Linked DNA regions of Homo sapiens. The protein of the gene in region 3 purifies or fractionates together with the protein of the main gene of each other region. This does not show direct contact. Each region holds a gene or a part of one and is shown on either strand. Other genes may lie near its edges. The genes, in order: RAVER2, RREB1, SPATA20 and UQCRFS1.

Evidence for each region.
Region 1: the proteins of SPATA20 (region 3) and RAVER2 purify together in Homo sapiens (affinity purification with mass spectrometry; 2 studies listed by BioGRID and IntAct, with this or other methods). This does not show direct contact.
Region 2: the proteins of SPATA20 (region 3) and RREB1 purify together in Homo sapiens (affinity purification with mass spectrometry; 2 studies listed by BioGRID and IntAct, with this or other methods). This does not show direct contact.
Region 4: the proteins of SPATA20 (region 3) and UQCRFS1 purify together in Homo sapiens (co-immunoprecipitation; 2 studies listed by IntAct). This does not show direct contact.

What each region holds. Positions count from the first base shown.
Region 1 is NC_000001.11:64,740,120-64,748,499, reverse strand, and holds the start of RAVER2 (ribonucleoprotein PTB-binding 2), read right to left. Parts: upstream 3,426-8,380; 5' UTR 3,328-3,425; coding exon 3,079-3,327; intron 1-3,078. UniProt on the Homo sapiens protein: May bind single-stranded nucleic acids.
Region 2 is NC_000006.12:7,229,429-7,237,020, forward strand, and holds part of RREB1 (ras-responsive element-binding protein 1), read left to right. Parts: coding exon 1-2,479; intron 2,480-7,592.
Region 3 is NC_000017.11:50,549,582-50,556,352, reverse strand, and holds the end of SPATA20 (spermatogenesis-associated protein 20 isoform 1 precursor), read right to left. Parts: intron 6,369-6,771; coding exon 6,238-6,368; intron 6,146-6,237; coding exon 6,041-6,145; intron 5,818-6,040; coding exon 5,743-5,817; intron 5,646-5,742; coding exon 5,436-5,645; intron 5,356-5,435; coding exon 5,163-5,355; intron 4,843-5,162; coding exon 4,674-4,842; intron 4,385-4,673; coding exon 4,173-4,384; intron 2,103-4,172; coding exon 1,903-2,102; intron 1,122-1,902; coding exon 1,041-1,121; intron 862-1,040; coding exon 691-861; 3' UTR 501-690; downstream 1-500. UniProt on the Homo sapiens protein: May play a role in fertility regulation.
Region 4 is NC_000019.10:29,210,008-29,218,361, forward strand, and holds the start of UQCRFS1 (cytochrome b-c1 complex subunit Rieske, mitochondrial), read right to left. Parts: upstream 3,145-8,354; 5' UTR 3,112-3,144; coding exon 2,898-3,111; intron 1-2,897.

The DNA.
Region 1 (8,380 bases), on a different chromosome or scaffold from region 3:
ACAATTTGAGGAAAAGTTTGAGAGGACGTGCAGCCAAAGGCTGGTTTTTTATGAGCAGGAGAGTGACATGATCAGATTTGTGCTTCAGGAGTATCCCTCAAGGGAAGTAGCATGCAGAAGGAGCTAAAATGTAAGAAACAGGACAGTAATGAAGGTAGGTGACAAACCGAAAAGTTGTTAACAGTGAACAAGAGACGAAAAGGACTTGAACCAGAGCTGAGGCTGTGAAAACAAAGAGGGCCAGGAAGATTCCAGAAAGCTTAGGCAGACCAGACAGGGCTTGACTGAATGCACAGTAATTATTCAGTGAGAAAGCTTTTGAGAACTTAATATAAAGGTGTTCACTTTTTTTTAGAGCCGGTACTTCTATAAGGTATTTGATAAACATACCTCTAAAAGCTTCCAGTTAAAAATACTTTCAGTATGCCTTTTAATTATAGGAACTATAAAGTTGTGGGATGCTATTATAAATCTGCTATACCAAAAATAAAACAAAATTTGAGATTTATGAAAACTACATTTAATAAAGAAAACACTCATATATTTCAAATGTTAAGAAAAAATTATTGGGTTTCTACTAGTAAGTTATTGATCAGTATTTTCTAGAGACATAAATACACAGTTTGAGAACTAGAGTTATGAATGTCTTTGATCCTTAAAGTGATATTCTAAAATAAAGAAATGAGGCCAGGCACAGTGGCTCACACCTGTAATCTCAGCACTTTGGGAGGCCGAGGCGTGTGGGATCACCTGAGGTCAGGAGTTCAAGACCGGCCTGGTCAACATGGCAAAACCACATCTCTACTAAAAAATACAAAAATTAGCCAGGCATGGTGGCAGGCTTATGTAATCCCAGCTACTTGGGAGGCTGAGGCAGGGAGAATCACTTGGACCTGGGAGGCAGAGGTTGCAGTGAGCTGAGGTCGCGCCACTGCACTCCAGCCTGGATGACAGAGCGAGACTCTGTCTCAGAAAAAAAAAAAAAGAAAGAAAGAAATGAATGAATAAACACAGTCTCTTCTGGAAAAGAACAAGAACTTAGTATTTCAAAAATATCTGATTACTTAATAATTGAACAAAAGCCATATTAACCATTTCATAAGGGTAAATATGTAGTTTTAGCACAGGTGATTTTATGTAGGCCTTACTAGCAAAAAGACACAAAATAAAATAAAGTGAAACTTTCATCAGTAAGTTGACAGTAAAATATAGTCACTAAGAAAAAGCAGACATTATAATTAAGGGAAATTGTTAAAACAAAAAATACAAAAAAATTCATGCAGAACATATGAAAATATTAGTTTAAGTAGATGAAATCTCAAAAATACAAATCCCAGTGTAATTCTGAGAAAGCTTCTATCACTAATTAAAACTGCTCCTTTTATTAGACCCTTTGATATATTTTTCATGTCTATTGCGAAGGGAAATGAGAAAGATACCAACAGCAAAGCAAGAATAGACAGAACGTCTTCAATTTGGGGTCTAAATATATTTAGAATTAATGCAAGGAATTGTGATAACAAAAACAGCTGACATTCTACAAAGACATTGAGATACTTCTCTATTTCTCTCCTCCTAGACTGTCTATACAAAGAGCTGCTATTTTTTAAATTTGTTTTTTTAAAAAATGCCATCTGCTTCTTCCAAGCCTCCTCCTTCCTGAGCTCCCTTACAGTCCTCTATTTGTATGGGCAGGGGAGGCTGCTTCCAAGAAATCAGTCCATTGCAGGTGTCCTTAACAGGTAGTATCACAAAACATTACCTGACAGATGGGAAGTGGACCATGGCGGAATGGAAAGAGTTGAAAGACAGATGAGATAAACAATACTGACAGACACTGCATTTTGAAACAAAATAGCCCCCCATGCCTACGGGTTATAAGGTTATATGTTCATATTTATTGTGAATGGCTATGTAAGGTCTCATTACATAGTAATGGGGCATTGGTCTCATTATTTTATAAGTCACATGGAAGAACTGCCATGCAATTGTCAATAGCCAGCCCTCTTGCAATTTCATGCATCCGGTTACAGGAGGAACTACAAATCCGCAACTACCAGGACAGCCCACCACACTCGGAGCAGTATATAAATTCAGGTTATATGTGAAACATGTGTGAACATCCAGACAGCTAAGAAATCCTGAAGAATCAAAGAAATGATTTCAAGCTTTTGATAAAACAAAAATATATATGCATAGGAAAAGAGAAAAGAACAACATCCCAGGATAACAATGGTTATCTTCAGGTATCAGAAATATGGGTAATTTCTGTGTCCCCTTTGTGCTTCTCTGTCTTTCCTAGCTCTCCTACAATGAGCATGCAGCTTTTGAAATCAGGGGAAAAAAAAAGTTAAATAGATGCAGAGTTTCTAATCTTAAAAGCAACAGTTAATCTGGATTAAATACACAGAGTAGCTATCTTTAAACCTCATCCAAGTCACTGAGAACAAACCCTCCAGTACTGTACTTGGCGTAGCAGGAGGCGGCTGCAAGGCTCCAAGGAGCGCAGCAATAACTCTATTCTGGGGCCTTAGCAAACTGAGAAGACAGAGTTGTTTCATAGAAACTTGGGCAAGTGCTTCTGCAACAACAGCGAAACTCACTCCCAGCTCTCTCGTGCCCCTGCCCCCTATGGCACTCCCGAGCACCGGGGACTATACGTTGGAGCCCTCGCCCCTGCCAAGGTGCTCCCGAAGCTTCGGCCCCCTCTACCCCCGCTCCCCCCCGCAAAATGTGTGCTCCACAACTCACCTCCACTCTCCTTCACCTCCTACTCCTCTACGGCCGTAGGGGAAGGAAAGACCGGGCCGAACTTGGAGGCAGCAGCCCCTGATTCCCGTGACCTTGGAGAAGCCGCTTCGCCACTCAGAGCCTCAGTTTCCCAATCTGCCCCCCTCCCTGGCAGGGCGTCTGCAGGCTAGAAACCCCAAGAACTCAGTCAAACCGAGGGGCCGCTCTCACCACTCGGCGCCGACCCACTCCCCAGGACCGCTCTGAGGCGCCCCCGATCCCAGCCTGGACACGGAGCGCCGCCCCGCCGCCCCTCGGGACGCGTCGCCCCTATCACCGTCCCAGTACCTGGCAGTTGCTGTCCTGGGGCAGGTTTTTCACCAGGATTTTCCTGCGGTTGCTCAGCTCCCGCTGCATCCGCTGCAGTCGCGCGGCGACCTCCTCAGGGTGCAGCGCGGCGGGCATCGGGTCCGGGGCGCCCTCGTGCGCTTCGGCTGAGGGGCCCTGCCCGCGCAGCCCCGGCCCCGGCCCCAGCCCCGCCGCGCTGCCCAGGCCCGCGCCCCCCTCGCCGCCGCCGTCTCCCGCCGCCGCCGCCATCTTCCCGGGCGCCCAGCGGCTGCGGACTCCTCGGAGGCTCCAGGGGAAGCGGAGAGAGAAAGCGGGAGGAGGCCCGGGCGAGGGCGAGGCGGGCAGAGGCCGCAGAGTGGGCCCAACCGCGGGGAAGGGGGGCGGTGGGAGGAGGGAGTAGAGAGAGGCGGCGCCGCAGCCAGCAGCCTGCTGGCGGGGAGAGGAAACCTGAGGCGCCGAGGAGGAGCCCGAGAACCACCTCGCGGGAACCTCCCCCGCCGGCCCCCGGCCCCGGCGCACAGGCGCGCCCGCGCCCGCCTCTCGCGGGTCCGCAGGCGGGGCCGGGCGCCGCCACCCGGACACCTGTGAGGGCGCGGACGCGCAGGCGGGCTCCCCCTCTCTGCGAGGCCTTCGCGAACGCCCAGGGTCGTTCTCTGGGGGATGCGGCCCCTTCGCGGTGGCTTCGCCGGGAGACTCAGCCCCAGGCGCCTGTCCCCGGCTGGCCCCCCATGTGACGCCGCAGCTCTCCCCCGGCTCCCCTCGAAACTCCCGCGCTGGGGCGGCCCGGGGGCTGCGGGCGCGAACTCGGTCTTCCCACACCCGAGATGGGGCTGGAGGGGTGGCAGGAGGGCGCCTCCTGCAGCCCGGCTGGCTCCCGATGGTAACCCTTCTGTTGGTTCAAGAAGAGCATATTTGGCAAAGTTTGAGTTTACAATGAGATTTTCTGGGGAGTAAAAAGAGGGACATTGTGGGAGAAATGTTATGTATTTGGTAAAACCTGATCGTAATGTATTTTGCTAGCTGTGTATGAGAAAGCCTGTGCCCTTCACCTGTCCCTCTGTCCCTGTCATGCAGTTCCTAAAATGTAAAACCTGGGTAGTTGGGTCTGCAACATGGAAAGTGATGCTGAAACAAAGACTAGAATGGAAAAGGAGCTGTGGCAGAGGGGCTGGAGAATACGCTGCTTGGAACATTATTTTAATTGAAACTTGGAGGGAGAGTTACAGTGTAGAACTATACTTAGTCAAACGGATGTCATCAGATCAAACAATCCAGCAGCCTTTGGCACTAGCCCAGGTGACCATCAGCGAAGGGGACCATGCATCTTAATTGTGTAGCATGCAAGTACACTAGCAAAAAAAAAAAAAAAAAAAAAAAAAAGACTTTAACACTAATTAAAAGAAAAACAAAATGTTTTAAAGATTTTTTAAAAATACTACAAATTCAGTCCTTACCATGTGCTCCCCCCAACCACGCATTTCTAAATGCTTTACATATACATATTTATTTACTCTTCATGATCATTCAATTACGTAGGTTTTGTTTTCCTCACTTTACACGTGAGGAAATGGGATCTGTTCTGATTGATTCCAAAGCCCAGTGTTCTGAATAACATAAAATAATTCACCCGTAATCCGTCCACCCAAAAATAATGGCTGCTAATACTTGTATCATTAAAATGATATTCGGCAATACACCCTTCTATACCACCACTATTCCTGGTAACCAAAGGATAGAAACAACCCAAATGTCCATTTATTGATGAACAGATAGGCAAAGCGTGGGATATATATATGCTAAGAAATATTTTTAGCCATAAAAAGGAATTAAGGACCCCTACAAGGTGGACGAACCTCCAAAGCATTAAATGAAAGAAGCCAGAGACAAAAGGTCATATATTGTATGATTCCATGCGTATAAAATATCAGAATAGGTAGATTCATAGAGCGGAACACAGATTGGTGTTTACCAAGGGCTGGAGGAGAAGGTAATGGGTGCAAACATCCTTATGGAATGATGAAAATCTAGTTTTGGAACTAGACAGAGGGGGCAGTAGCCCAATAATATGAATGTACTAAATAGTCACTGAACTATTCACTTTTAAAATATTAATTTTATTACGTGACTATTACTGCATAAAAATGTTTTTGAATGATATTCTGTAGTTTACAGCTCTGTTTTCTGCTTTTTACAGTATGTCTGCTGAATCCCTTTCTATGCCAATGTATTTGAATACCATGGTTTTTATGGCTGCATATTATTCTGTTGAATTAGAAAATTCACTTATTTCCTAGCATTAGTATTTCCTATTATTTTTATCTATTGTAAACAGCACTGAGTTTAACCCTCTATACATATTTGAAGATCATTACTTTTCCACAGAGTGAAGAACTAGAAGCAAAATTTCTGCATCTAGAGTAAGCATATTTAAGGATTTTTTGTATGTATTTACAAACTTACCTCAGTTTTCCCTATCACAAGCATTGTATAAGAGCACTTATTTCTCTGCTTGCATCCATGATATTCTAGTATTAATGTATCATTTTGCTTTTAAATTGTATTCCTTTGATTTTAAAAGGTATACATTTTAAACTCCAATAAGGCCCTATTTTGTAGAGCTGAGAGACTTTGAAAAGTACATTCTTTGAAGTGAAGAAGCATGAATAGCCTTAGCATAGGCTGTAACCTTGAGTCATTCATTATGTTTCAGAACATGTATTTATCCAAATGAGTACCACCTCCTTGGCAAACATTTATTAAATGTCCCTTATGTGCTAGATAATATATAAAGGCAATAAGAAGACAGAAATAGTAAAATAATGCTCCTGTACAATAGGGGCTAAGTCTCACTGAGAGAAAATTATGCAATGATTATAATTAAATATAATAAATATGCAAACGGATAGTGGTCTGAATATAACTTCAGTGATTGCTTTTGCTCAAAACATTCTCCAAAGTGCTTTTTTTTTTTCTTTTGTGACGGAGTCTTGCTCTGTTGCCCAGGCTGGAGTGCAGTGGCGTGATCTTGGCTCACTGCAACCTCCGCCTCCCAGGTTCAAGCGATTCTCCTGCCTTACCCTCCAGAGTAGCTGGGACTACAGGCGTGTGCCACCAAGCCCAGCTAATTTTTTGTATTTTTAGTAGAGACGGGGTTTCACCATGTTAGCCAGGATGGTCTTGATTTCCTGACCTCATGATCCGCTCGCCTCGGCCTCCCAAAGTGCTGGGATTACAGGCGTGAGCCACCACGCCCAGCCCCAAAGTGCTTTTTTGGAATTGACTTTATAATCTACAGCAAATTATTCTGCATAGTTTATGTGGTAGCAAATACTCACCTCTTAGAGATGGGTTTAATTTTTGGAAATAATTAAATGTTATTTGAGGTTAAGTCTGGTGAATGAATCAGGTGTTGATTATGTTTTGGGAGTTATGATAATGTAATTCCAGTTTTGGCCCCAATGGGGACATGATTACAATGTTATCAAATTATTAAGCCAATTTTATTAAGTGGCTACTTTGAATTGATCCCACTCCTTGTGCAATATTGCTACGTCGTATAGGGTAGTGGCTTTCAAACTTTTTTGACCCAATCTAGTGGGAAATATATGCCACAGTGGGAAATATATTTTATATCACAATTTAGTAAACACACACACAATCGAAATGAAGATTTCACAAAACATCACGCTCCTTCATCATGTAGCACATTCTAGTATTTCCTATTCTATTCCATTCCATTTTAAAATTGCTTGAATTACACAGTCGATTTTGCATATCACTAATGAGTCCTTACTCACATTTCGAAAAACACTGCCCTAGATTTCAAATCAAGTATGTTTTACATTTGCTCAACTGTTTTCAAGGAATTAAGGGAAATGGCAGAATCTACTGGTTAAAAATAATTTTAAACTGAATTAATTGTTATTGCCACATAAAAGAACTGGATGGAAACTGCAAAGACTTTGGAATGCTACTGTAATTCCAAAGAGTTCCTCTCATGCCAGGTTTAGCCTGACTCTTTAAATAGCTGCTTCCATGGCATACTAAAGGAACACTCTAATCTGAACTTGAAGTGAAGTACAATTATCAAGCAGCAATGTATTTACCAATACCCACAGGTAATTATCATGATCTATATAATGACCATGTTATTAAAATATGAGCCCTATGCTAGCTTTAGCCTTTATTTTTTTAAATATTGGTGGTAATTTTTTAAAGTTTATTTATTTATTTATTTTTTTATTATTCTTTAAGTTTTAGGGTACATGTGCACAACATGCAGGTTGGTTACATAAGTATACATGTGCCATGTTGGTGTGCTGCACCCATTAACTCATCATTTACATTAGGTATATCTCTTAATGTTATCCCTCCCTCTCCCCCCACTCCACAACAGGCCCCAGTATGTAATGTTCCCCACCCTGTGTCTATGTGTTCTCATTGTTCAATTCCCACCTATGAGTGAGAACATGTGGTGTTTGGTTTTTTGTCCTTGCAATAGTTTGCTGAGAATGATGGTTTCTAGCTTCCTCCATGTCCCTACAAAGGACATGAACTCATCATTTTTTATGGCTGCATAGTATTCCATGGTGTATATGTGCCACATTTTCTTAATGCAGTCTATCATTGTTGGACATTTGGGTTGGTTCCAAGTCTTTGCTATTGTGAATAGTGCCGCAATAACATACATGTGCATGATTTATAATCCTTTGGGTATATACCCAGTAATGGGATAGCTGGGTCAAATGGTATTTCTAGTTCTAGATCCCTGAGGAATCACCACACTGACTTCCACAATGGTTGAACTAGTTTACTGTCCCATATTGGTAATTTTTGTGTATTTTTAAAGTTCTGCAGGTGGGGAAAATGCTAGAAATGTTTACTAAGTCTCAGTTTAATAATAATAGTAATAACAACAGCTTCTTGTATCCAAACTCTTATGCTTATGTGATATGATAATATGATGAAAATAAGTTAAGTATGTGAAAAGACCTTGTAAACTATAAACAATACACATTATTCATTTAGCAGTATTTATTGAATGTCTATAATGTACCAGACACTGTACACCGGTGTACCACACACCGAATTTGATTGATTTTTATTCAGAAATGGACTTTTCCCTGGGGAAAGTCATTGCAACTCAGTAATTGTAAATTCCATGTCATAAATGCCATGAATAAAGTACTCTTTGTAGCACAGACAGGCGTTCAATTTTGACTTAGAGGAAGCCATTATGAGGAGCTAGGTCTTAAGGACAAGTAGGAGTTTTCTAGACGAAATGGGGCAAGTACTGAAACAG
Region 2 (7,592 bases), on a different chromosome or scaffold from region 3:
AAGGGCTTCATCATCCAGCCTGACAGCAGCATTGTGGTCAAGCCCATCTCTGGCGAGTCGGCCATCGAGCTGGCAGACATCCAGCAAATTCTGAAGATGGCAGCCTCGGCTCCCCCTCAGATCAGTCTTCCGCCCTTCTCCAAGGCCCCTGCCGCCCCACTGCAGGCGATCTTCAAGCACATGCCCCCTCTGAAGCCAAAGCCCCTGGTCACACCACGGACGGTGGTGGCCACCTCCACGCCCCCGCCTCTCATCAACGCCCAGCAGGCTTCCCCGGGCTGTATCAGCCCCAGCCTGCCGCCACCGCCCCTGAAGCTCCTCAAAGGCTCAGTGGAGGCGGCCTCCAACGCCCACCTGCTGCAGTCCAAGTCCGGGACCCAGCCCCACGCGGCCACGCGGCTCTCCCTGCAGCAGCCGCGGGCGGAGCTGCCGGGCCAGCCTGAGATGAAGACGCAGCTGGAGCAGGACAGCATCATCGAGGCCCTGCTGCCGCTGAGCATGGAGGCCAAGATCAAGCAGGAGATCACAGAGGGGGAACTCAAGGCCTTCATGACAGCGCCCGGCGGCAAGAAGACGCCCGCCATGCGCAAGGTGCTCTACCCCTGCCGCTTCTGCAACCAGGTGTTTGCCTTCTCGGGGGTCTTGCGTGCCCACGTGCGCTCCCACCTGGGCATCTCGCCATACCAGTGCAACATCTGCGACTACATCGCCGCCGACAAGGCCGCGCTCATCCGCCACCTGCGCACGCACAGTGGGGAGCGGCCCTACATTTGCAAGATCTGCCACTACCCCTTCACTGTCAAAGCCAACTGCGAGCGGCACCTGCGCAAGAAGCACCTCAAGGCCACCCGCAAGGATATCGAGAAGAACATCGAGTATGTGAGTAGCAGCGCGGCCGAGCTGGTGGACGCCTTCTGCGCCCCGGACACCGTGTGCCGGCTGTGCGGCGAGGACCTCAAGCACTATCGTGCCCTGCGCATCCACATGCGCACGCACTGCGGCCGCGGCCTGGGCGGGGGCCACAAGGGCCGCAAGCCCTTCGAGTGCAAGGAGTGCAGCGCCGCGTTCGCGGCCAAGCGCAACTGCATCCACCACATCCTCAAGCAGCACCTGCACGTGCCCGAGCAGGACATCGAGAGCTACGTGCTGGCCGCCGACGGCCTGGGCCCCGCAGAGGCGCCGGCCGCTGAGGCGTCGGGGCGCGGGGAGGACAGTGGCTGCGCTGCCCTTGGTGACTGCAAGCCCCTCACTGCCTTCCTGGAACCCCAGAACGGCTTTCTTCACAGGGGCCCCACCCAGCCTCCACCTCCCCATGTCTCGATCAAGTTGGAGCCCGCCAGTAGCTTTGCGGTGGACTTCAATGAGCCCCTGGACTTCTCGCAGAAGGGCCTGGCCCTGGTCCAAGTGAAGCAGGAAAACATCTCCTTTCTGAGCCCTTCTTCCCTGGTCCCCTATGACTGCTCCATGGAGCCCATCGACCTGTCCATCCCCAAGAACTTCAGGAAAGGGGACAAGGATTTGGCCACTCCCAGCGAAGCCAAGAAGCCTGAGGAGGAGGCGGGGAGCAGCGAGCAGCCCTCTCCCTGCCCAGCACCCGGCCCTTCTCTTCCTGTAACTTTGGGGCCCAGCGGAATCCTGGAAAGCCCCATGGCCCCTGCTCCGGCGGCCACCCCGGAACCCCCAGCACAGCCCCTGCAGGGCCCTGTTCAGCTGGCGGTCCCAATCTACTCCTCAGCCCTGGTCAGCAGCCCTCCACTCGTGGGCAGCTCAGCCCTCCTGAGTGGCACAGCCTTGCTGCGTCCACTGCGGCCCAAGCCCCCGCTGCTTTTGCCAAAGCCCCCCGTGACAGAAGAGCTGCCCCCGCTGGCCTCCATTGCCCAGATCATCTCATCTGTATCCTCGGCCCCCACCCTGCTGAAAACCAAGGTGGCGGACCCAGGGCCCGCAAGCACTGGCAGTAACACCACGGCTTCAGACAGCTTAGGAGGTTCTGTCCCCAAAGCCGCCACCACCGCCACCCCCGCTGCCACCACCAGCCCAAAAGAGTCTAGTGAGCCTCCCGCTCCAGCCAGCAGCCCAGAGGCTGCCTCTCCCACCGAGCAGGGCCCAGCGGGCACGTCGAAGAAGAGGGGCCGGAAAAGGGGGATGAGGAGCCGACCCCGCGCCAACAGCGGCGGGGTGGACCTGGACTCCAGCGGGGAGTTTGCCAGCATCGAGAAGATGCTGGCCACCACAGACACCAACAAGTTCAGTCCGTTTCTGCAGACAGCGGAGGACAACACTCAGGATGAGGTGGCCGGAGCCCCTGCCGACCACCATGGGCCCAGTGATGAAGAGCAGGGCAGTCCCCCAGAAGACAAGCTGCTGAGGGCCAAGCGGAACTCGTACACCAACTGCCTGCAGAAGATCACCTGTCCCCACTGTCCCCGGGTTTTCCCTTGGGCCAGCTCCCTACAGAGGCACATGCTCACACACACTGGTAAGAGGGCCACCGGGCTCCCAGGCAGTGAGTCCTACTTCCTGGTAGGGGGAGCCACGAGTGGGGGTCAAAAGCGAGACCCATCTCCCACAGTTCCAGTTATTCCTAGCTTGGCTTCTTCCCCGGTCTCCGAAGCCCCGAGCTTGTCTGGTGGTGCTGTATTTCCTATGTGCTCTCAGTACCCACATGGCCTTTGTGCAGGGGCCGAGCCCTCCAAGGGCAGCATTCTACTAAGTGTTCATCCGGGGCGTTTTGAGGTGAAAGTGGTCACAGGCCCTCAGATCACTCATGGCGTCGCCTCATCCCTTCCGGAGGTGGTAGCCAGATTATCTGCTGGGTTAAACAGGGAGGCGGCTCCACAGACGTGAGACTTTGTATTAAGGTATTGGGGCATAATGAGCTCGGTGCTTTGACATTCCATTCCAGTGTCCTCAATGCAGCTTTTTAAATTTTGACAATTTTGTGAAGTTTTTTTGGATGCCATGTCTTCTTAAAGAGAAATATGACAAATTGTGAGGTTGGCTGTTTTCTTTCAGTTCACTAAGGCAGTCACATCTTCCCCTGTTGATTGTGAAAATCAGCAATGAGTGGTGGTAGAATGTTTTAAAATTTCTGTTTATACTACAATTGTAAGCCTTTCTGAGAAACTTCTCTCAGAAGGGCCTGGCGCTGGTCCAGGTGAAGCAGGAAAACAACTCCTTCCTGAGCCCTTCTTCCTTAGCCCCCTACGACTGCTCCATGGAGCCCATCAACCTGTCCATCCCCAAGAACTCACACCCAAGTGTGAAAAAATTCTAAGTAACAAACTTAAATTGTCAAAGTGATACCCCAAAAGTATCTTCCTTTTTTCTTTTTCTTTTTTTTTTTTTTTTTTAAATAAAAGAGTCTCACTATATTGCTCTCAAACTTCTGGGCTCAAGCAGTTTTCTTGCCTCTTCCTCCCAAAGTGCTGGGATCACAGGCATGAGCCCCCACACCTGGCCCCAAAAGTATTTTTCTTTTTTTGAGACGGAGTCTCGCTCTGTTACCCAGGCTGGAGTGGAGTAGTATGATCTCAGCTCACTGCAACCTCTGCCTCCCTGGTTCAAGCAATTCTCCCTGCCTCAGCCTCCCAAGTAGCTGAGATTACAGGCATGCGCCACCATGCCCAGCTAATTTTTGTATTTTTAGTAGAGATGGGGTTTCACCATGTTGGCCAGACTGGTCTCAAACTCCTGACCTCAGGTGATCTGCCCACCTTGGCCTCTCAAAGTGCTGGGATTACAGGCGTGAGTCACTGCACCTGGCCTGCCCAAAAATATTTTTCAAATGTTAGTTTCTAGAAGCTGATTTTTAAAGAGAAGTTTAGGATAGGAATATACTTTAAATAATTTTGTTATCAGGTGCTTCTAGTATATAAATGGCCATACAACTCTCATCTGAATTATAATTTTCTAAATTTTCTCAGTGAACAGTCTCAGTATTCAGTGATTTGTGTTATTGAACTAAGCGCAAATTAGTGAGATCCTATCTTTTTGGAGTTTACAACCAAAATATTAATAAATAGATAGGGCCTAAAACCAAATGGTACTGGATTGGTGAATAAAATACAGAACACCAGTTAAACTTGAATTTCAGATAGACAACAAATAATTTTTAGTATAAGTATTTTTATGTAGTTCTTGGGATTTACTAAAAAATTATTTGTTTATCCAAAATTCAAATTTAGCTCTGGGCATCCTGGGTTTTTTTTGTGGGTTTTTCTTTTTGCGCTAAATATGGTAACCCAAGGTAGTCAGGAGGTTTATGACAGGATGTTGAGGGTGGGTTGTGGGAATTGGTGTGAGCTGTGCTCTGTGTCCAGGTGGAAATGCATTCACAAAGCTTTGGAGAAGCTCGTGGAAGGATGTTTCTCCTAGATGAGGTGGAACAGCAGGAGGGAGGTCATGGAGCCACCGCTGGATACCTGAACAGTGTGCAGAATGGAGCCTGGGGAGGGAGAGGAATCTGGGAGCCAGAGGGGAGTTGTGGCTGGGAGCGATAGGACTCTCAGTGGCTGCACTGGTCACCAGAGCTTGCCACACAGACACGGCATTTCCTTCTGCTGTGGTGGGTCCTTGAATCCAGGGATTGAGGAGTAGCAAGTCAGGAGTGCCTATCCAGGGAGGACTCAAGGAGAACCAGGATTTCTAGATTTGTAAAGTATGTACTGCCCTTTCATACCACTGTCTCCCTGTTAAAATAGTTTAAGCCTGACAAGTAAAGCAACCATTCTAATGATGACAGCAGTTCAGGGAAGAAAATGCATCTTCAAGAGAAGGTGCCCCTTATAGCAATGTCTTTTGCTACCCTTTTTTGGGTGCCACCTGTTTATCGCCTACTGAGAGTTTATGGAGAAGTGAGTCTTTCTGTTACCACTTTTCAGAAAGCAGATGGTCTGGATCTGATGATTGGCTTGGCTCGCCCCCTTCCTCGGTGCTCCCACCTCCCCCTGCTGTCACCCAACCTCCCCATCTTCCTCTTCTAGTATTTTCTTTTTTAAGAGTTGTGCCCATGTCTTTGCAGGTGCCTGATATGTGTTCCCATTTGTGAATCCAGTCATGATTGCCTGGCTTTTGAATGCCAAAATGTCAGTGTTGGTTTAAAATTTAGTAGCATCTGAAACTGAGCAAGAAAGCAGGAGGTTTGTTTAAGTTAGGATGGGGTAGATATAAATATAAACATTCTGCCTCTTGTCCCTTAAAAGTTATTGATAACCTTGATAGATGTGTCTGCTTTGGCGCAGTCCCTGTATCCTACCATAATATGTTCTTGGTAGAGCTAGTCTTCATGACAATCCTGTGAGGGTGATGTCATCCATGTGTTGCCACAAGGAAATTGAGGTTTACTTTTAAGGAGCTAAGTAACTTGCCTACAGCCATATGGGGAATAAGAGATGGAGCTACTGTTCCAAGCCAGGGTCCGGTTCTGTGCAACTGCCCACTGGTCAGGGTGTGTGTGCCCAGTGTGTCCTCTGTGTGAAGGCAGAAGGCGGGCAGAGTGCACCTTCCATGTCTCCCTGTGTTCCCACATGTCCACATTGCAGAAGGTTTGGAAGTAGTTTGAGATAAGGGGGGACACCACTGTGGATCAGAATGTTATTAGCTAATTTCAGACTTAATGACTACAGAATCGTGTTAGCCACATGCATAGACACTGTATGAAGGTTGGTGCCCATTGAGCTCCATTAATTTCCTTTGCTGGGCTTCACTCTCAGCTTCCAGGGATGTTCAGCATCACCACTGCTAAATCATGTTATATGGAGCACTTGGCTACATCCAGTGTCGTGTTAGAGCATTTTCCATTCACGGAGCATTAGAGCTGGAAGGAGCCTGGGAAGTCACCTGATGGCCCCTCAGCCCACAGACCTGATCTTTCTCCTGGTAGGCAGCTCTGCTGTCACTCAGAACCACATGGATCCTTGGCTCCCTAGGCTTCTGTGAGGCGCTGTCTCCAAAACTTTGAAAAAAGTCTTGAGTGTACACATGTTAAACATTGACTCTGCAGCCACCCTGCAAACAAAGGTGTTATTCGGAGAAGATGTTCTGTGGGGTATTTTTGTTTTTTCTAGTTTTTTGCTTTTGTACAGACAAGGTCTCACCATGTTACCCAGGCTGTTCTCGAACTCCTCAGCTTTGCAAAGTATTGGGATTTTAGGCGTGAGCCACGGTGCCTGGCCGTTTTGTGTTTTTGAGTACAGTGTTAAAATCTAGCTGAGTTCCAGCCAGAAGCATTGAGCAGCATCTGGTTTTGGACTGCATTTAAACAAACTGTCTACACCTTGAATGCTGGCCTCCTCCTACCCCCTCAGCAGATTACTGTACTGTCTCTACTTTGTCTCAAAACACGTGTTCTCCAGTCCTCCCAGTCCTCAAAGGGGCAGCAAGAAGCAGATCCGGTGTTCAGTGTCCAACGAGGGGTATACCTGCTGGCTGCTGGCAAGGAGCATGTGGCCTCAGCCTTTTCTTGCTCCCGGCTCAGGTTCCAGGAACTGTGTTTGATGAGGAAGCTGGCAGGGCTGTCATTTTTCATACCCCCTGGCACAGTCTCCACACACACCTGCCTTTCCTCCTTCCTTCCACTCCTCTCCAGCTCTCTCCCAGACCATACTTTCCTGCTGATGAGGACAGTTCCTGGTTCCTTACCTTTCTCTACCTAAACGCGCCACTCCATAGGAGACAAGAGTGCACTGTTCCTGCCTTTACCCCTCGGGAGCATCTCGTGTGTTTTTAGGCCACAGGTGGAGGAGAGGGTGCCAGGAAACACAGCCAGTCTGTTCTAGCCTCTGTCCTCATTTTCTTCCCCCTTCCCTTTGCTCCAGTTCCTTGTCCCACAGTGATGGGCTTGGGACTATGGGGTGTCCATTCCGGGCTTCCCTGGCTTGCTTACTTTCTCATGGGTGCTTTGAGCGCCTTTTTTGAGCCGGCTCAGGCTTTCCCCCCACACCCTTTCCTCCCTGCTTCTATCTGGCAGTGAGGGTCAGAGCTTCGGTCAGTGAGTCATCCAAACCTGGGTGTGGAAAGCACCTGGGACACCACTTGTATTTGGCTCCTTTTAGCTTTCTTAAAAGACAGCTTTGGCCGTTTGTACCCAGTCCTGTGTACACTTCTGCCAAATACAGAGAGAAAATACCAAAAGAAAGAAACCTGCCTGCAGGGGTGGAGGAGCAATGGAGAGAAGGCTGGGCTGCTCAGGCTGTCATCTTGTTACAAAAAGAAAAGCAACTGCAAGGTTTTCTATGCTAGTTAGACCCCACCTTTCTAACCCTGATTGTCTTTGAAAAATGAACAGAAATGTTTTCAGTTCTGTTTTTTTTTTTTTTTATCTTGGAGGCCAAGGCCCCAATCTCCTCATCAAACTATTCTCACTGTTCACTCTTCTCTTGCCCCAATGTCCTTCTTCGTTTCTTGACTGTTCTGGGAGAGTAAACACTGGCTAATTTTTTTTGTTTGTTTTTGGAGGTTTTTTTTTTTTTTTTTTTTTTTTTGAGACAAGCTCTCACCCTGTCACCCAAGCTAGAGTGCCTGTGTGCACCCTGGCTAGAGTACAGTGGCATGATCACAGCTCACTGCAGCCTTGAACTCCTGGCTGAGTT
Region 3 (6,771 bases):
GGAGGCCCTGCTTCCATCCTTTCGAGGCTGGGGCTAGATGGATACCCCAAAAGAAATGTCTTAGTCGTGACAATAGCAGCTCCCACAATGCACCAGGGCATATGCAAAGTCACCATTCTGTGAAATATAAAAGCTCATATAAAGCATCTCTGCCCCCTTTCCAGCTCAACACAAGGAGACAATGGGGAGGGGAGGGCAGGTTCCCTTCTTAACCTCTTTCTGAGGGCAAGGATTGTGCTTTCTCCCTCCTGGGCCAGTCCACACCCCCATGCCCACCCCTGGGCATCTTTACTTGGTTTTAGTCCCCTGACCTCAGTTCAGGGGACTAAATTCATTCAGGCTACAATGACCATGGAAGGGAAAGGGGCAGTCTGCTGACCCCTGGAAGATGAAGGAGAAATGGGAGAAGGCAGAGGGGTCAGGTGGGGGCTGCCAGAGGAAGTGGCCCTGAGCTGCTGGTTCCCAGTCCCTCCCTCATAAGCAAAGCTGAGGCCCTCAGGTTACCACGGGACACTGTTAAGTTTATTCTAGGGTGAGTGGGTGCCCAAGGGGGGCAGTGAGTATGGCCGAGGTCACCTGGTGGCAGGGTGCTCAGGGATGGCCACAGGTTCTATAGGGCCCTGCAGGGCCTGAGTCTCTAGTCAGTTGGGATGCTTCACCTTCTGCCCCACCCCAAGGGGGTTGGGGCAGTCATGGATGTAGTAGTTTTCGTAATTCGCAGGGATCAGTGATGGGCACTGAGCAGGCTTGATTCTCACACACATATGCAGTGGCCTGGTCTTCCAACCGTCGGAGGGTACTCAGGAAAGGCAGCTGGCGGGACAGGAAGCTCGAGGGGTCCCCATCAGCCAGAATCAGCACCTAGGGCAGCAGCAGAGCAGGGAGAGTCACCTGCCGGGGTGGGGTCACCTGCCCATTAGAAAGGCCCACTGGGAAGTTCCCTCTTCCCAACATTCTGAGGGGAAGGAGATGTTGAGGAGCTGAGGATGGGAGGGGGCAGCTCTGGGGAGGTGGCAGATTGGGCTCACAGGGATGGGTACCTTGTTAGGAATGTAGACAGAGTGGACGCACTGCACCAGGGCCTTGGTGTCCTTGGCCTGACGGTCTCCACAGATCACGATCTGACCGGAATAGAAAGGTCACTCCGGTGTGTCAGGGGAGGGAGGGCTGAGCCCTAGACCACCAGGGCTTCCCCATCCTCCTTCCGCCCCACCGTATATCTCTAAGAAGGAACAGGGACTCATCTCAGCTGCCAGGATGAGTTAATGCTTGGCAAGTGGGAACACACACACACACTCACACATGAGAATACCGAAGTGGAAATGTCATACATATACACAATGGTACAGATACAAACATGGGGAGACACACACCCAGAAGACCCAGAGCACACAGAGACCCATTCAGACAGACACAGAGTAGTCACACACACACACACACACACACACACACACACACACACACACAGTAGATGCCCACACAGAGGCAGATACCACACACACAAACACCAGACACACACGCATGCAGGCAGACACAGAGGCAAACCTGCAGATGGGGCATCCACATGCAGACAGACAAACACTCACACCAGCATCCCCCTCAAAGGTAGGTGCACAGACACACACCTCCAGGGTCACACACACCCGGAAGTACACACACACCAGTAACACAGTATGGACAGAAGCAATTACACTGACACCAAGACGTACAGAGAAACACTTCATCAGCCACCACGGACTCATATTAACTTCTGCCTCCCTGTCTGACAGGCCACGTGCCTGCACACACACAGACCTGAGCTCTGGGGACAGCCCAGGAACCCCACCCCCTGTTCCCATCTGCCATCGCAGCCCCAACTTCCCTCCTACCCGAGGTCCCAGCCCAGATGCCCTCACCCCCCACCTGCTTGAGGGTCTGCTGCTGGGCTGAGAGGGCGCGGACCATCTCGGGCAACGCCACCGGGACACGACGCATGCGCTCGGAAAAGGCGGTCAATAGGCACACACACTTGTCCATCCAGTCCTTGTGGCCCGTGAAGCCATGCAGCCGGAGCAGGTTGTGGGCTGACACGGAATTGGCGCTGGGCTCTGCTCCATCCTGGTCTACAGCACATAGGGAGGCAGGGGGTGGGGGTAAGGGCAGGTCACTGAGTCCCAGGACCCTGCCCAGGACTGTATCCAGGGCCACTTGGGGGACGGGACAGAGAAAAGGCCCTGCCCATCCTGCCCCTTCCCCGCTCTGGGTGTGGATGCCACTCCAGCAGTTATCAGTACTTTGCTGTCTTTTTTATGGCACCCTCCACTCTACCTGTCCTAGCCTCAACTGTTGGTCTCCAGGCTCCCTCCTCGCTGCTGATGCCTCTGTCCAGCCACTCAGCTGCTCAAGCTAGAGCGGCATCATCCTGTCCCCTTCCTCTCCCTCTCCCTCCGCTTCTAATCCATCTGTGAGTCTTGCCAGGGCTGTGGCCAGAAGAGATCCAAATCTCACCATGTCTCCCCATCTCATACTTCCACATCCTCTGAGCCTTCACCAATGCCTGCCTGGACTGAACACGAGTAATGGCCTCCTAACTGGTCGCCTGTTTCCCCCACCCCCACTTCTCTCCATCAGTGGTCAGAGTGACCTCCTTAAAACCATACCAGAGCAGATCACAATCCACTTAAAACCTCCTTGCCAGCCGGGCATGGTGGCTCACACCTGTAGTCCCAGCACCTGGGAAGCCGAGGCGGGAGGATCACCTGAGCCCAGGAGTTTGAGACCAGCCTTCTTTTCTTAGGAAAAAAAAAAAAAAAAGACGGCTTCCGTGCCCTGCCGGCCTCAGCATTCTCCTCGGTGCCCTCCTGGAACACGCGGGCCCTGCCTGTCCTCCAGGATACAGGCTGCCTGCACCAGGCCTGTCATGCACTGCTCCCTATGCCTGAACTCTCTCCACAGCTTCTCCATGGCCACATGGCCCCTCTTTCCCTCCAGGCCTTGGTTAAATGACACCTGTCACAGGTGTCCTCTAATCTCTCCCTAGGCTGAGTTGGTCCTCCTCTGTGGTTCTCTCCCAAGGCCCTTTCATTCACTCAGTTAACATTTATTAAGCACTTACAATGTGCCAGAACCACACTAGACCCTGGGGATACAACAGTGGCAGAAAGTCCTGATCTTTGAGGAGCTAAAATTTGAGTTTTGGGAAAGAAACCTTTAACCACAGACAAGGCACATGGGTGATAGGGAGCAGGCACACATAGAGCGTCCTACTTCTTCATGGCACTCACCACAATTTTAACTGCACATTTGTGCATGTGTTTTTGCATCATTACTGCATTTTCGCTGTCTCCCCTACCATACTGTAAGCTTCATGAGGGCAGAGACCAAGTGAGCCTTGGTCAATATCTGAATCCATGGGTGTCAGTTACTGTGCTAAGCATGTTTACAGAACAGCTACATTCATCTTTACATCAACCCTGTAAGGTAGTACCAATGTTAGCTCCATTTTACTTATTAAGAAACAGGCCAGGCATGGTGGCTCTCGCCTGTAATCCCAGCACTTTGGGAGGCCGAGGTGGGCAGATCACTTGAGCCCAGTAGTTTCAGACCAGCCTGGGCAACATGGAGAAATCCCATCTCTACAAAAAATTAGCCAGGCATGGTGGTGCATGCCTATAGTCCTAGCTACTCAGGAGGCTGAGGTGGGAGAATTGATTCAGCCCCGGAGGCAGAGGTTGCTGTGAGCCAAGATCATGCCACTGCATTCCAGCCTGGGTGACAGTGAGACCCTGTCTCAAAAAAAAAAAAAAAAGAGAAAGAAAGAGAGAAAGAAAAGAAAGAAAGGAAGAAAGGAAAGAGAAAGAAAGAAAGAGAAAGGAAATAAAAAGAAAAGAAAGGAACGAAACAAAACACGCTGAGTGTAGTGGTTCATGCCTGTAATCCCAGCACTTTGGGAGGCCGAGGTGGGAGGATCACTTGAGCCCAGGATTTCAAGATCAGCCTGGGCAACATAGCAAGACTCTGTCTCTATTTAAAAAAAAGAAATTGAGACACAGAAATATTACAGCAGCCAAAAATCACGCCATTAATAAGTAGCAGAGACACAAAGCCAGGAGGGCTCCTGCCCACACCAGCTCTTCACCCACGCTGCACTTACACCTCCCAGGACCCCAGACTAGCCCTGCACCCCCACTGACCGTCCTTCAGACGCAGGGGCAGGCCAGCCCCCAGCTCAGCCTCACTGCAGAAGTAGCCGCCACCCTGGGAGTCCCAAAAGAGCTTGTCCTGTGTGTCCTGCAGCCGCAGAGCCCACTCGAGCCACGCACTCTCCTGTGAGGCCTCATACAGGTCCAGCAGGCCCCGCACCACGAAGGCGTAGTCCTCCAGGAAGCCCCAGCAGGGTGGGTTGCTGGGGGACAGGCATTACGGGAGGGGCTGGGGAGAGCCCCAGGAGAGAGGGCCTTTCCCAGAGGAGGCCCTTTCACGCATTTGTTCACTTAACCCTCCAGATGAACCCTCTTGGGCAGGTGCCATCAGCCCACTTCCCAGATGAGTAAATGGGCCCAGGGAAGCTACAAACTCACAGCAAGCACCTGGCAGAGCCAGGACTGGAGTCCACATGGAGGGGAGAAGTAGGGCAGAGGTAGGCTGGGGACGCGTTGGGGAGACGGGCCCTCCCGGTCTACCCAGCCCCCAACCTGTGCTCCACAGTCCCCCCAGGGCCGGTGTAGCAGGTCCGCATCAGGCGGCCACTGGCCACATCAAACATGTGCCGCTTCAGGAACTTGGCACCATTGGTGGCATAGTTGATCAGCCTGTCTTGGCCCAGGACAGCCCCAGTCACAGCATAGCCTGACACCATCAAGCCTGGAGCCAGGAGAGACAAGTAGTGGTAAGAAGCTGGCCAGGACCCTCCAGGCATGTCCACCCTATCACCTTAGGCCCCAACACCTCCCTGGAGCCATGGGTGATCCCTAAGATCTTGGGCTCCAAAGCCAGACATGGCGGGGTTCCCAGCCCTTGCGCGTGACCTTGGGCGGGTTACTCAAGCTCCTTAAGCCTCTTTTGTCAACTGAGAATAATAACGCTAATCAAGGGAGAGTGAGCATTTAGCCGCTGCCGGAAAGACAGGGGCTTTGTGAAGGGGGATCCTACAGACAGGCTCGGTCTCAGGTGTGCTGCCCCACCATTCCAGGCAGCCAGCATCTTGCTGTCCAGGTGCGGCTTGGGCCGATGCTTCCGGGCCTGGAAGAGCTTCTCCAGCCCTGAATTGAGCAAGGTCCGCACGGCCTCCACATCCAAGCCAAAGCGGGCAGCAGTCAGCTCCAGCGAGTACCGGACGGTCAGCACATTCTGGCCCTGCAGCTCCCCCTTGGGGTCCTGAGGAGAATGGCCTTTGTCTGCGAGCTCACACGCCTGGCAGGCACCAGGGCCCGTCAGGTGACCCCAGAAGTCCTCACCTGACTGGGGCTGATGTTACCAGCCTCTGTGAGGCCGTAGTGCTTCATGAGGAGCTGGCCTGAGGTCAGCGGCTCGGTGGCACCCAACACAGGCTCCGGGAGGAGCTGCTGAACCTCTTTGACCGTCCACACATAGTAGGCGCCCTCTTTGGGCCGCTGGCCCCGCTCTGGGGGCGAGTCTGCATCTTCTGCGCTATAGAAGCCTCCGGACTGTGGGGAGGGGAGAGTTGGCTGGCCCCGGCCCACAGGGCAGTGGAGGCCCCAACCCCTCCCACAGCCAGGCCTGCCTGCCACCATGGACACACACCCGGTGGCTCAGGCTCCGAGCCACGTACTGCAGGATGCCTTTGGCCACGTCAGAGTAGAATTCATCACCAGAGAGCTAAGAAAGGGAAGAAAGGAGACTGTGAACAGAGAGGTCACTGGGGAGGCCCAGGTGGAAGGTGGCAACATTCTCTGAGGCAGGCGGGGGAGGGAAGCCTGGGTAGTGGGTACATGGGAGGGAACAGGGGATTCAGATTAAGAGAAGCCACAGTCACCAGGAAGGCCTTGGGAGGGGCAGCCAGAGTGAGATGCCTGTTCTCTGGGCTGGGGTCAGGGGTCACCTGGAAGGCCTGCGAATAGGCCACAGCGAGCTGTGCCTGGTCATAGAGCATCTTCTCAAAGTGAGGGACGTGCCACTGGCGGTCTGTGGAGTAGCGGTGAAAGCCCTGTGCGGATACAAAGCTGGAGGCCAGTCCCAGCTTCTGCCCCACCCCACAGCCCCCTGCTGCCCCTCCAGGGAACACCCAGTGCCCGTCACCTGCCCCACATGGTCCCGGATGCCCCCGTTAGCCATCATTTTCAGGGTATGCAAGGCCATCTGCTGGGCCCGAGAGCCATCCTGAGTCAGTCGATGGCTGAGCCAGTAGGAGAACAGGAAGCTCAGGATCACTGTGGGGGCACCAAGAACATGCAGGTGAGAGAATGGGAAAGTGGGGACAGAGATCGGGGTGGTCAGGAGGCCTTGGGCCAGGCAGAGGCTGGGAGTTCACTCAACAGGCAGTCTCTGGACAGGCTGTGAGGTCAAGAGTCAACCCACAGGACAGAAGGTAATAGCCTAAGCCAGAGGTCAGAATATCATTGGTTCACAGAGGACCAGTAAGTTACTTGTCCCCCTAGAGCCCAGAATGTCATTAGCCAAGTCAGGGTCACTGGGTCACTGACCAAGTCAGGGGACAGAAGGTCATCATCTAGGTTAAGGTGAGAGGGTCACTGCTGACACCAGCAGTCGGGTCTTCACCGATAGCTACCGACAGGCTAGGGGCAAGGAGGTCACTGCCAGTCAGGAGGACAG
Region 4 (8,354 bases), on a different chromosome or scaffold from region 3:
CATTAGGTCTGACTTTCAGTAAGATGCTAGATTTAATTCTAACCTAAAGCAAAATCAAATACTTAAAGGAGAAAATTTAAGGAATTTTAACAAAACAAGTTTTATTTTAAGGTTGAGCTCCAATGCGCCTTGGAAATCTGCATGAAAATAGTACAACCTTCCTCTCCAATTCAAGAATCTTCTCCAGATCCAACCCCTCCACTCCCATAAGCCATCCTGCCATGAACCATCTAGACAGACTATAATGTGAACTTAAATTACAGGCTGAAATGATTACAGAAAAGGTTTTTGCCTTATGGTTCTACATTATTTGCCTGTTTCTAAAAATAGTTTCTCTAAGTCAGGTAAACCTCCAATTTTTTTTTTATTATACTTTAAGTTTTAGGGTACATGTGCACAATGTGCAGGTTAGTTACATATGTATACATGTGCCATGCTGGTGTGCTGCACCCATTGACTCATCATTTAGCATTAGGTATATCTCCCAATGCTATCCCTCCCCCTCCCCCCACCCCACAACAGTCCCCAGAGTGTGATGTTCCCCTTCCTGTGTCCATGTGTTCTCATTGTTCAATTCCCACCTATGAGTGAGAACATGCAGTGTTTGTTTTTTGTCCTTGCGACAGTTTACTTAGAATGATGATTTCCAATTTCATCCATGTCCCTACAAAGGACATGAACTCATCATTTTTTATGGCTGCATAGTATTCCACGGTGTATATGTGCCACATTTTCTTAATCCGGTCTATCATTGTTGGACATTTGGATTGGTTCCAAGTCTTTGCTATTGTGAATAGTGCCCCAATAAACATACATGTAAATGTGTCTTTATAGCAGCATGATTTATAGTCTTTTGGGTATATACCCAGTAATGGGATGGCTGGGTCAAATGGTATTTCTAGTTCTAGATCCCTGAGGAATCTCCACACTGACTTCCACAATGGTTGAACTAGTTTACAGTCCCACCAACAGTGTAAAAGTGTTCCTATTTCTCCACATCCTCTCCAGCACCTGTTGTTTCCTGACTTTTTAATGACTGCCATTCTAACTGGTGTGAGATGGTATCTCATTGTGGTTTACAGGCAACCTAAAAATTGGGAGAAAATTTTTGCAACCTACTCATCTGACAAAGGGCTAATATCCAGAATCTACAATGAACTCAAACAAATTTACAAGAAAAAAACAAACAACCCCATCAAAAAGTGGGCGAAGGACATGAACAGACACTTCTCAAAAGAAGACATTTATGCAGCCAAAAAACACATGAAAAAATGCTCAGCATCACTGGCCATCAGAGAAATGTAAGCCTCCAATTTTTTGAAGAAACTTTAGCAACACGACGAATTCCAAAGATGCTTTTCTTTTGCTATTGAAATGTTCTCCTTCCTTCCTTCTCACCTCCAGGTCCCAAGGATGGGCTAGGGTACTCTACACCTGCCATGGACAGTTTCTTCAAAACCCACTGATGCTCCTTAACAAATATTCATTCACAAATACTTTGCACTAACTGTATACAAAATCCGACGTTGTGAAAGATAGAAAAATAAAGAAGATATTACCTTCTCTATGCCCTTAAGCCCAAGGGTGGAGGAGTTACCAATAAACACAATACAGAGTGTAAAGTGTATGTGCTACAGAGACAGACAAATCAGCAAATAAAAACTTTATTCACCTGATCCTTAACTGAGATTGAAAAGATGGGTAAGGAAAACATATGGACATGTAGCAACTTAGTGGAAGGACCATGAAGAAAGTGCAGAGCCCAGGGTGAATGAAGACAGAGTAAAAAGAAAAGTGGCGGGCAATTTGGTTAGCGTGTAGGGGAAGAGTCACAAACAGCTATCAGTGGAGCCAGGCTGGTAACAGAATGAAACACGCAGACCTGGTAAAGACTGTGACAAACTGGAGAAGACCACTTGCTCCAACTGCGGGGGCGGCCACTACACAGCACACTATGGAATTTTCCCAAGTAGAAACTAGATCCCAGTATTACCGGCTTCCAGCATTTTAAGAGATGCCATTAGTCTTCCCAGTTTTTTTGAAAACTACACAGCCTGCAGACACACTGCCCACAGGCTGCCATTTCTCTATCTCCGATACAGGGCCAAGTAAAGATGGAAGGCGAGGCAAAGAAGATAAACGGGGATCTAAGGACAGAGGGTGTGGAATAGCCCCTGCGAAGAGCTCAGTGGCTACGACAATTCGTCTTGTCAAATCCCTGCTACCACATGTCCACACCACGGATCCTGGTGCGAGTCATTCTACCTCGTCTGTTTTCTCATCTGTAAAATGTAAATGTCGTCAATCTCTGCCCGTCCTTGACGACTGATTATGTTGTGACACTACACTGTAACTGACCTTGTGTATGTTTTTTTTGTTTTTTTTTTGGTGGGGGGGTGATGAAGGGGAAGGACATGAAGGGATCGGTAGTGGTGAGAAGACCAACTTCCCAAATATTAGTAAGTTTCCATTTCTTAAGCATGTAAGTGCCCAAACTGTGCTAACGGCTTTACGTAGAATTCCTCCACCTAAGCCTCACGACACCCCTACAAAATTGATAAAGATATGAATCCATTTCACAGGAAGTACGTTTAGAAACTCGCCCAAGGTCAAACGACCTGCAAGCAACAAAACCCCTCAGAGGTGGCTGGAACAGCGGGACTACAGAGCTCGTGAACTCGGCCGAGGAGGAACCAGGCGAAGCCGGCGGACGCGAGTCCAGGCCGGCCACCAGAAAGACGCCCCGAGCCCGGGGGCCAGGCCCAGAGTTGCGGAGGCCGCCCAGCCCGACCTGATTCAGGCTCCGCTCGCGCGCCCGCGGCCGCTCCCTGCTGGGGGCCGGAGGAGCGGGCACCGAGAGACCCCCAGCCCTGCTCGCGGCCCTCGCCCCGGCTCACCATTGAGGCCCACGGAGGCGACCAAAGGCCGGCGCACGGCCTGGCCGCTCAGCGACTCCCGGCTGAGGAAGGGCCGCTTCAGGTCCAACACAGGCTGCTCCGGGGTGGCGGGCACCGTGGCCTGCACCAAGGGCCGCAGCGCGCCCGCCACCCCGCGGGACGTGGCCGACAGGACGGGCGCGAACGGGCCTGAGCGGGATGCTACCGACAACATGGCGACAGCCGCTCCAACCGCCAAGCCGGTCACAGGGACGACCTTCCAACCACGGCGCAGGCGCGAGGAGGCGCGGGACGCGTGACGACAGCGCGCCGCCGGAAAGGAAATTCTGCAGTCCTGCAGGGCGGGGCAAACTTGGAGAGGCGCTGCGTCGGGGGACGGGGCTACAAGCCGTCGCTGGGGGCGGGGCTTGCGGCCCACCTGTAGGTCCCGGTGCCACCTCGTCAGTGTCCCGAGAGATCCCCAGAAGAACGAGAGGGCTGAACAGGGGACCCCACTGACGTCCGGTGGGCCGACTTTACGATCCTTTAGGGTAAAAATTTCATCTAGGAAGACCTAGAGATAACAATAAACGATTATAGTTTAACTTAGGATGGTAATATATCTCAACTACGACGAAGTCCAGCACATAGTAATCGCTATGTGTTTACTATGATGATTTTTATTATCTTCATCTAACAACAACAACAACAAAAAGGCCAGAGGCATCTGTGCAAAGCTCGATAATGCTAATGGATTATGTTTATTAAGTATTCACTGTGTATTTGGTTTTGCGTTTTATTATACCTACGTTCTTTCATTTGTTATCAAGGTCTCTATGAAGTCAGAGCTATTACTATCAGCATTTTACCCATGAAGAAACCGAGGTTTAGAGAGATTCTTTTCCAGGAACTGGATAGCCAGCAAGATGTGAAGCAGGGTAATCTGTCTCCTGAGTCTATGCTCTTCAGTGCCACCACTGTTTCCCAAAGTAGGATTTTAGAATTTTAGAGGATGCACAGAGCTCGCTCATTCATGTTCCATCACATAGTGAGAAAGTTTTGTTTTCTTTTGTTTTGTTTTTCAATCCTGATTGCACCAATGAGAAAGTCTCAGTTTGGTGCTAATACATCTTTAATTAAAAAAAAAAAAAAGTAGAGATGAGGTCTCACTATATTGCCCACTCCAGTCTCGAACTTCTGGCCTCAAGGAGTCCTGTCTCCCCCTCCCAAAGTACTGGGATTATAGGCATGAGCAAATTCACTTGGCCTCAGTTTGATCCTAATATATCTTTAATTCCTCTCTACACTTATCTCCCACTTTTAACAGAAAAGATCTTGAGTTAGAAGCTCTTAGCAGAGAACTGAGTCTAGAGTGATTTCATTATATGGTTCATAGTATTGATTTTCTATCCATACTGGTTTTCTATTCTGTACTATACTGAGATAAAGTTTTTCATTTAGGTCAAAAATAATTTAAATATTAAGTAAATGTTAATATAAGCAGTGCACAGAATTGGCTCTGTGCTGTGCATGGGCTCTGTGATCTGGGCAAGTTCCCTCACCTCTCTGTGCCTCAGTTTCCTCACCTGCCAAATGGGGGCAGTAATGATGCCATGTGTGTTGTAAAGTTACTGGGAGGAGTAAATGAACTAAAACGTGTAAAGCATCTACAAGCAGGCCCAGCACACAGGCAGCACCAAGTGAGGATTTGCTAGTGGTGTTTTTATCTGAGATGCCACCTCCTCTAAGAAGCCTTCCCTTGATCCTTGCTGACTCGTTGTTATTCCTCATGCCAGGTCCAAAGTGTACTGACAGGTTTCCCCTTTGACCTTCCTATGACTCCCCTTAGGGCCTAGGCTTTGACCAGCCTTATAGCCCAAGGGACTATATTGTACTCTCAAGATTGGAGGCTGCCTCCTCAGGGGCCACCCTAGCCAGGCTCATCACACAGCTGGCTCAGTGCTCTCCCTTGGCAACAACCTTAGGATAAAAGACATTTCCAGAGAAGTTGTCACACAGCATGCATGGTTTGAGTGCTTCACAAGAAATAATATCACAATTCCCTCTGAGTTGGTAAGGAAATGAAAAATGAATGAATGAATGAATGATCCTTCACAAAACCTTCACAATGTCCCAGTTGGGTGAACAGAATAGGAATTATCTCCAGACCTCCTGGGTTCAATTTTAGTTTCACCACTCACTAGCTGTGCCCTAGGGCAAGTTATTTAATCTCTGTGTGTGCCTCCGTCTTTCTCTTGTAAAACAGAGATAATAACAGGATCTACCCTAGAGAGTTATTTTAAGGATGAGATGGATTAATACATGTAAAATGCCTAGAACTGTGCCTGGCACACAGTATGTAAATATCTGCAATAATAATAACTTTCTATTTTCTAGATGAAGAAACTAAGACTCAGAGAAGACAAATGACATGCCCAAAGACACATTGATAAGAACGCATCTGGTAGTGGTGTTCGAGTCCAGCGTTGCAGCAGAGAGATGGGTAACTGTATGGCCGAACAGCTGTCTTCTCGTGGAAGAAGGAGGCCAATGTCCAGGAGTGGCAGGCATACTGGAACTTGGACTTCTGTAGGCCAACCTGGGTTCCACTTGGTAGATGGGGGTCTTGCTGTGTTGCCCAGGCTGGTCTCAAACTCCTGGCCTGAAGCAGTCCTCCTCCCTTAGCCTCCAGAGTAGCTGGGACTACAGGTACACACCACTGCAACCCCTCAGTGGTTGTTATTTAACTGAAGGGGGTTTTAGCTTTCATGTATCAGCTCACTCTGGAGCCAGACAGCCTGGCCTTCATGGCAGCTCTGCCCCTTACTACCTGTGTGACATCGGGCAACGTTACTGAGTGTCAGATTTCTTATTTGTAAAACAGGGATAAAAATGACATTGCTGTGCAAATTAAAAGAAAGAATCCATGTGAGATATTTAGCACACTGGCATACAATGAGAGCTTAATAAACATTGTTAGTTTTGTAAACTGAGGGAAAAAAATAGCCACAGGCCTGGGAACATAAATGCTTGGTAAGCTTCTCAGTTCCCTGGAAGTCTGACACGCAATGTGTATGTATGAACAAGGCAGGAGGAAGCATGACACCAAGCCTTCCTTTTAACAAACACTGTTTAAATCAGAGGTCGGAAGTCATGGACTGGAGATTCATTCTCTCCCCACTCATTTCTGCCCAGAGACACCTGGTGATCTGGCATACACAGTGCTATGAACCTCAGAATTATTTGCTAGCATTTACAAATTGTGAGTACTCCCACATACAAACTGTGGTAGATGGAATAATGCCTCCCCACAAAAATGTCCACAGCCTAATCCCTGGAACCTGGGAATATGTTACTTTACACAGCAAAGGAATGTTGCAGCTGTGATTGGAGATTGAGATAGGGAGAGTGTATTAGTCTGTTGTCATGCGGCTATGAAGAAATACCTGAGACTGGGTAATTTACAAAGAAAAGAGGTTTAATTCACTTACAGCTCAGCACGGCTGGTTGGGGGGGCGCCCTCAGGAAATTTACAATCATGGTAGGAGGCACCTCTTCACAGGGTGGCAGGAGAGAAAATAAGAGCAGAGCGAAGGGGGAACCCCTTATAAAACTGTCAGATCTCATGAGAACTCACTGTCATGAGAACAGCATGGGGGAAACCGCCCCCATGATCCATCACCTCCACCTGGTCCCCCCCTTGTTACAATTCAAGGGGATTGTAACAATTCAAGGTGAGATCTGGGTGGGGACACAGAGCCAAACCATATCAGAGAGTCTTCCTGCAGTGTCCGGGTGGGTGCGGCATGTTCATAGGGTCTTAGAAGAGGGAAGCAAGAGGTGAGAGGACAGAAATGCCACATTGCTGGCTTTGAGGGTGGGGCCAGAGGAGGGACCTGCAGGCAGAGATAGAGCTGGAAATGGAAAGGAAACCTTCTCCCTTAGAGTCTCCAGAAGAAGTGCAGCCCTACAGACCTGTGTTAGGCTTCAGACCTCCAGAATTGTAAAATAATAAAATTGCATTATTTTAAGCCACTCGAGGCCCATGTCCTCAACAAAGAGAAAGACGGTGGGGTGCTGTCAGCCAGGGTAGGTACCTGCTTGGTGGTCTGGGTCCTTTCCCACTGTGTCCATTCAGTTACATTACCTGCCCATCTGCTGAGGCCTCGAGTTTGGGACCTCAGGTTTATATAATTCCTTGCACAAGCATGATCGATTGATTCCGGAGAGTAGCAGAACACTGATATGCAGGGGAATCTCCTAGTTCCAAGTGTGAGTTGTAGTCTAGACACTTCCTGTTCCCTACAGTCTTTTTTTTTTTTTTTTTTTTTTTTGAGACAAAGTTTTGCTCTGTTGCCCAGGCTGGAGTGCAGTGGTGTGATCTCGGCTCACTGCAACCTCTGCCTCCTGGGTTCAAGCAATTCTGCCTCAGCCTCCCGAATAGCTGGGATCACAGGCACATGCCACCATGCCCAGCTAATTTTTGTATTTTTAGTAGAGTTAGGGTTTCGCCATGTTGGCCAGGGTGATCTCAAACTCTTGACCTCACATGATCCGCCCGCCACAGCCTCCCAAAGTGCTGGGATTACAGGCGCAAACCACCGCCCCCAGCCCTCTTCCCTACTGCCTTGATGTGTTCATCTGGGCAATGTGTGTTGAGGGGGCATAGGGAGGGGAGCTCTAAGGCAAATGTGCTGGGATTCTGCATTCGTCATCCTCAAAACAAAATTGGTCCCTAGGTAGTTCTGCCTGTGATCCTGCATAATGTGCAAAGCCAGTAAGATGCCTTTGCCTCATCCCCAGGGAACATGCCTCCCAGCCACTTTCATCTCACCTAGTGCCTACACAGAAAGGCAACCGCCTCCCTGCTGAAGGGACCCCACGCCTGTCTCCTGTTTCCACACAATTACCCCGGGAAATGCCTGGCTTCCCATTTCCAGTTGCAGCCATCTTGACAGTTTCAGCCTCTCCCCACAGCCCACGTCCCTCACTTGAGCAGCGAGATGTGAAGACAGACAGCCGCTTGAGAACTGCACAGACTGTCCTTAATCTAAGCCATTTAAAAGGCATTTGTGTTCCATAAAACCCGTTTCTGTAATTCTGTGCCCCTACTTCTTTGAAAGATGATAACCCTAGGGAGGAGATTAGCCAGGGAGGAGAAGTTCAGATGTGCTAATATTTTAATCGCTCATTCTTTCATCACATTAGTCACATTCATTAAGTATGATTAATTTCAGGCTTTGTTGAAAACCCTATCAGTTTCCCTATCAGCCACACATCCATCTCTTGCCAAGCAGGCTGGTGCAGTAGCACCAAAAGTCCCCCAGTGTTTTTTACACCTGGATTGTATTATGTGCCCCCTGAAAATGTGTGGAATTAATTGAGCTCATTTGTTTCAAATACTTTGCAAGAGCCTGGGCTCTTGAGTCAGGCGGCCTAAGTGTGATCCTAAGTCCTCCCATTGCTGGAGTCACCTGG